Regions from separate parts of the Homo sapiens genome. Here region 1 is linked to region 2. The links come from fine-mapping of genetic effects on gene expression. A gene starts in region 2. The other region holds a variant in brackets. All regions are shown on one strand. Distances are from middle to middle. Region 1 overlaps VLDLR (very low density lipoprotein receptor). Region 2 holds the start of VLDLR (very low density lipoprotein receptor).

Region 1 (2,897 bases), 28 kb after region 2:
CTTAGCATTTCCTGAATTGCAGGCTTTTAACAGTTTTCTTCTGGCTTTTTGGAGGAGAACAACAAAATGGTAGCCTCTTTTAATATTTTCTGTAATGTGAGTAATATTTCTTAAGTCATTTGCTTTGAGAATCTCAGGTACCCTGTTAGTCCCCAAAAATGAACGTGGATACAGGCTCTGCATGCTGCTTCGCAAGGTTTATGGTGACCCCGTTAAGAAACCCTGCTGGGGAAAGAACCGTGAAAGTAGATTATTAATTCATTAGATATTTTTAATGGAAGCCAGAGTAGTAGTGGCTTGTCATGTAATGACAATTCTTTTCCTACCTAGACCTTATAAAAAGTCGCCTCTATTGGCTTGATTCTAAGTTGCACATGTTATCCAGCGTGGACTTGAATGGCCAAGATCGTAGGATAGTACTAAAGTCTCTGGAGTTCCTAGCTCATCCTCTTGCACTAACAATATTTGAGGTAAGATGTGTCTCACATCAAAGTGTGTACCTTTGAGCTACTATATCACTTTGAGAAGAAATAACAGACATAGCGGGAGGAGGGAAGAGCAGCTGAACATGGCTTGAGAAACTGCTTTCACTTAAAACCTGGTACAAATCAGACACTAAGTCCCAGAAGCACTCCACACCTAAACTTGATTCTTTTACAGTTTTATATCCAGTGTCCCAGTTCAGCATTCAGTAAACTTAGTCCATTAAATGAGAAGTAAATGATGATGACCTTAGAAATGGACTTGTGTTAATCCTGGATGTACATGCTAATTGTGGGCTTCTGTTTTAGGATCGTGTCTACTGGATAGATGGGGAAAATGAAGCAGTCTATGGTGCCAATAAATTCACTGGATCAGAGCTAGCCACTCTAGTCAACAACCTGAATGATGCCCAAGACATCATTGTCTATCATGAACTTGTACAGCCATCAGGTACCGTGGAGAAGCACAGTCCTTAATAACTACTTTAAGGGAAGCAGCATGACACAGAACCTGCTGGATGTCAGTAGCTCTTGGCAACTCAGTTTTCTTTAAAAGGGAACTTTTGCCCTCCTGTACCCTACCTTAAACATTTCACATGTTATTTTTTTATTTCTGCTGCCTCAGAGAAATGGCTTCTCAACTTCAGCTCCTGGCTTTCCTCCCAAGCCTCAGTGTCAGAGCTTTTATTTCTGTTTCATTCATGTCCCCTTGGCCTTCAGCCCCTCTTGCCAAGACTATTGCAGTAGCCTCCAAAGTAGCTTTTGTGCTACAAGCTTTCTCTACTGTTAGTTTGCTAGGATTTTTGCAATGAAGTACCACAGACTATCTTAAACAACAGAAATTTATTGTCTCAAAA[C/T]TCTGGAGGCCAGAAGTTTGAAATCAAGGTGCCAGGAGGGTTGGTGCCTCTTGAGGGCTGTGAGGGAAGGGTCTGTTCCAGGCCTCTTCTTGGTCTGTTGATGGTGCTCTTCCCCCTTTGTCTCTTCACATCATCGTCCCTCTGTATATGCTCGTGTCCAGCTTTCTTGCTTTCTTTCTTTTTCTGTTTTTTGGAGACTGACTCTTGCTCTGTCACCCAGGCTGGAGTGCAGTGGCACAATCTCGGCTCACTGCAACCTCCGCCTCCTGTGTTCAAGCAATTCTCCTGCCTCAGCCTCCCGAGTAGCTGGGACTACAGGAGTGAGCCACCACGTCCAGCTAAACTTTGTATCTTTAGTAGAGATGGGGTTTCACCATGTTGGCCAGACTGGTCTCGAACTCCTGACCCAAAGTAATCTGCCTGCCTCGGCCTCCTAAAGTGCCGGAATTACAGGCGTGAGCTGTAATAACAGTCATATTGGATTAGAGCCCACCTTAATGACCTCATTTTAACTTGATTACCTCTGTAAATATCCTATCCTCAATATCTCCAAATAAGATCACATTCTGAGGTACTAGGACTTCATTATATGAATTTTAGGGAGGAACACCATTCAACTCATAACACCTACTTTCCCCCTGTGACACACCTGATATAGGATTGTGTAGATTCTCAAACACATCGGGTTATATTATCTCCTGCTGAAAACACTTGGCTGGTTCTATCTAAATAAAGCCTTCAAACCTTCCTAAGGCTGAGTTTCCTTCCACTTTGTTGGAGCAAGTCAAGAGAAAACCAGGAGAACATGCCTAGTCTCCTTTCTCTGAGCCTTCACGCTAAACCTCGGGCAAATAGTGAGAGCCAGTCCTGGTCCCTCACCTCCCTTCCCCACCTCCTCTTTTGGCATCTGTCTCTTAAAGGCATAACTTTTACAGTCTATCTCGAAGAGGTCCCTTATCTGGTGTCCTTAGAGCATGCTGCCTGTACCTGTATACTTATTCTTCCTTGATACTGTTCTCACTTGAAGGATTAGCAGAGTAGACAAGTTTAAGCTCTTGGGGGCAAGGACTCAGGTCTTCAACATGTAGAACAAGGCTTTATATATACTAGGCACCGGAATACCCATTTTAATGGTATTTTTTTTCCTGACTAGGTAAAAATTGGTGTGAAGAAGACATGGAGAATGGAGGATGTGAATACCTATGCCTGCCAGCACCACAGATTAATGATCACTCTCCAAAATATACCTGTTCCTGTCCCAGTGGGTACAATGTAGAGGAAAATGGCCGAGACTGTCAAAGTAAGGCATTTTGTGTTTCAACCACAAGTAGAACCTACAACAAGCAATATAATAAGACACAAGCTTGGATTTTTAAGAATTCTGTCTTAGCTAATTCTTTGAATAGATTTGAGAAGATATCTGCTATTGTATGCCGGGTTATCATGTCATTTCTTTAGAACTGACTTTAACCCATTTCAACATTAAATGAGTTTATAGGAGACTAAAGTGTCAACATACCTTACACTAATTTGTACCTAGTCCCTTAACAGCACTGAG
Region 2 (2,897 bases):
CACACACGTTTTTCAAAGTTAAGTCTTATTATACCATATCAATGTATAGCTTGTAGTATACCTGTATCTCTGAGTAAAGTATTAAAAACAAGTCATATGACTGTTTATTAATGCTGCCTCTTTTTGTATTGATTCCACCCATCCCTTCTACTCCTTTCCTCTTCTGTAAAGCAGTAGCTCATCAGATGGCATTTCAGAACCCTGAGAATATGAAAGACATCATGCACTAAGGTTTTCCTATCACATCTCAATGCCATTAGGTGAATAACACCGGCATGCATCTTCACTACTAAATGTCATACAAACAAATTTCAGTTGTTTCACATGCAACCTGTGTGGCTGCTGCAGTTTGTATCAACTATGTAACCACAGGGTGGGCAAAATAGCATTCAAAATGAGCTATAGTGCAAGATACCATCCATACGTAGAGTTAAGCCCTTTCATGCTTAGCAGTCACAATCAGGATATCTTTGGCCCACAGAAACCTATCCTGACTGGAATTTTCCTCTCCTGTGTGTCTCCTGGATATAGTAAGTTCCTAATAAACATCTCCTCTGATTGCTAGCCTTGACAAATTTCCAGGAGAACCAGGGCAAGGAGAAGACAGTGAGGCAGTGCCCGCTGCTCTTCAGATCACCAACAGAATAGAGTCAGAATATGATATTATTGAAACCTTCCAAGTTTGAATTAAGATAAAAACAACTTTTTCAAAATACCAAAAACCTTTTATTTAAGAAAGTGAAATCGCTCGATGTGCCCTCCCACTCTGGTTAGATGCTCAACAGACCACAGCAGACAATGCACCTCAACCAGGGCTAAGTGTGCAAGAAAACTGAAGTACACAAAAAGCAAATTATAGACTCAGGTACTGTCAGGCACAAAAGAAGAACCAACCCTTTCTAGGAGTCTTGTCTTTGCTTCCTTTATTCTTTCCTCGATTCTTGTAATTGAATGTTACAAAGTATATCAAGAGGAATAAACGTATGGGGCCCCTCTCTTCCAAACAAGAAAAGGTTAAGCTTTTAATTACAGGCCCTCAAACTATCATTTTGTGCAATTAGCAATTAACTATAATCGTTGATGAGCAAATGCAAAGCTGCGCTAGCAATTTCCCTTCTCCTCATCCCAGGCTGGGTTATTTCAGTCTTGTTCTATTACAGAGGACCAGCCACAACCGCGCGCACTCTCTTTCAAACATACACACTCTCTCACTTAAAGACACATTTAGTTTTCGGCAAAACGGCATCTCAGCGTGCGATTGAGACCGGCATCCCAAACCCCACTTTTGAGCAGCCCAAACGTTTGGAGCCCCTCCGCTTCATCACTTTCTGAGTGGATAGAGGAGGCCCGAAGAAGATGCTACCTACCAGCCTCTCTCAGGGGCGCAGGAGAGGGTGGTAGAGAGATGCTTGTTGCCCCTGGAAACTGCAAGTACCCCCCAGGTGCACGCCCCGTCAGTGGGGAGGCGGTGGCAACAGCAACGATAGTTGCATCAGCGCTAACTGCTGCTGCTGCTGCGTGTTCTGCCGGAGGCTGCCGGGAGGGTACAGTAATGACTGTAGGGAGCGCACAGCCGCTGCGGCGGCAGGTTCCCTGGATCAGGAAATTAGGACAGGCACCCGGGATTGGAGGCGAGGGCGGCGCGCGAGCCAACCAGCGGTCGCCCCGGGCCCCCGTGAGCCCCAGGCGAACGCGCGGAGCAGCCGGGCCCCTAGAGCGGTCCGGGTGGCGGCGGCGGCAGCCACGACCACGACCGCGGTCACTCACGCACGCTCACACTCGCACGCTCCCCGCGCGGGCACCCGGCTGCCCGGCGCGTGCAAGAGGAGCGCGTCGAGGGAAAGGAGGGCCGAAGCCGCCGCGCTCCCGCCCGCCCGCCGCGCCTCCCGTTGACCACGCCCCCTCCGGCCCCCTCCCCGCTGCTCACCCCGCTCTCCGGCCGCCGCCGGTGCGGGTGCTCCGCTACCGGCTCCTCTCCGTTCTGTGCTCTCTTCTGCTCTCGGCTCCCCACCCCCTCTCCCTTCCCTCCTCTCCCCTTGCCTCCCCTCCTCTGCAGCGCCTGCATTATTTTCTGCCCGCAGGCTCGGCTTGCACTGCTGCTGCAGCCCGGGGAGGTGGCTGGGTGGGTGGGGAGGAGACTGTGCAAGTTGTAGGGGAGGGGGTGCCCTCTTCTTCCCCGCTCCCTTCCCCCGCCAACTCCTTCCCCTCCTTCTCCCCCTTTCCCCTCCCCGCCCCCACCTTCTTCCTCCTTTCGGAAGGACTGGTAACTTGTCGTGCGGAGCGAACGGCGGCGGCGGCGGCGGCGGCGGCACCATCCAGGCGGGCACCATGGGCACGTCCGCGCTCTGGGCGCTCTGGCTGCTGCTCGCGCTGTGCTGGGCGCCCCGGGAGAGCGGCGCCACCGGAACCGGTGAGTGAGGACGCGCCCCTCCGCCGGCGGGCGGGACCCAGCCGGGGCACCGGGAGACCCCGAGGCGTAGGTCTCCGTTTGCCCACCCGCCTCCTAGGAGGCGCCTCTCGGTTCTCCTCGCCTTCCCTCCCTCCCCTCCGTGGTGGCGCCTCTGAGCTGTCAGCGCCGAGGCTAAAGGGAGCCGGGCTTGGGGAACAGCGGGGTTCGGGGTGCCCCGACGCCTCGCCTGAACTAGTCTTCTGCCCCTCACTCCGCCTCCCCCAGAGCCGCTGCTTCGCCTCGTTTCTCGCCCTCTTGACGGGCGCCGAGGTGCGTGGGCTTCTGAGCATTGAACAATGGTTCTGCCTCCTCTGCCAGGCGCAGTGTTGGGAAGGAGGCAGAGGGCCAAGACGTGTGCGGCAGCCTCGGGCGCACCCTCGAACCCCGGGGAGTGCGGGAGCGGACGGGGGGAGAAGGTGAGCGCCTCCGGGGACGCGGAGCGCCAGGG

What was found.
Region 1: its variant is fine-mapped to the expression of VLDLR in blood mononuclear cells (TOPMed, PIP 0.92).

Annotation. Positions count from the first base shown.
Region 1 is chr9:2,647,878-2,650,774 of GRCh38, forward strand. It overlaps VLDLR (very low density lipoprotein receptor), which reads left to right. Exons shown (of 19, transcript NM_003383.5): 13 at 331-470; 14 at 792-933; 15 at 2,493-2,639. It overlaps LOC105375957 (a long non-coding RNA gene), which reads right to left. Exons shown (of 3, transcript XR_929436.3): 3 at 1,307-2,897. Among named protein-coding and RNA genes, the nearest start is that of VLDLR-AS1, 27 kb to the left of the region's middle. The variant C/T (reference allele first, on the strand shown) is at 1,340.
Region 2 is chr9:2,619,862-2,622,758 of GRCh38, forward strand. VLDLR (very low density lipoprotein receptor) reads left to right here and starts at 1,926. Exons shown (of 19, transcript NM_003383.5): 1 at 1,926-2,410. The coding sequence starts at 2,329. It overlaps VLDLR-AS1 (VLDLR antisense RNA 1), which reads right to left and starts at 2,512. Exons shown (of 4, transcript NR_015375.2): 1 at 2,239-2,512. RefSeq lists an enhancer at 1,468-1,762 and silencers at 1,641-1,720, 2,331-2,600, 2,871-2,897.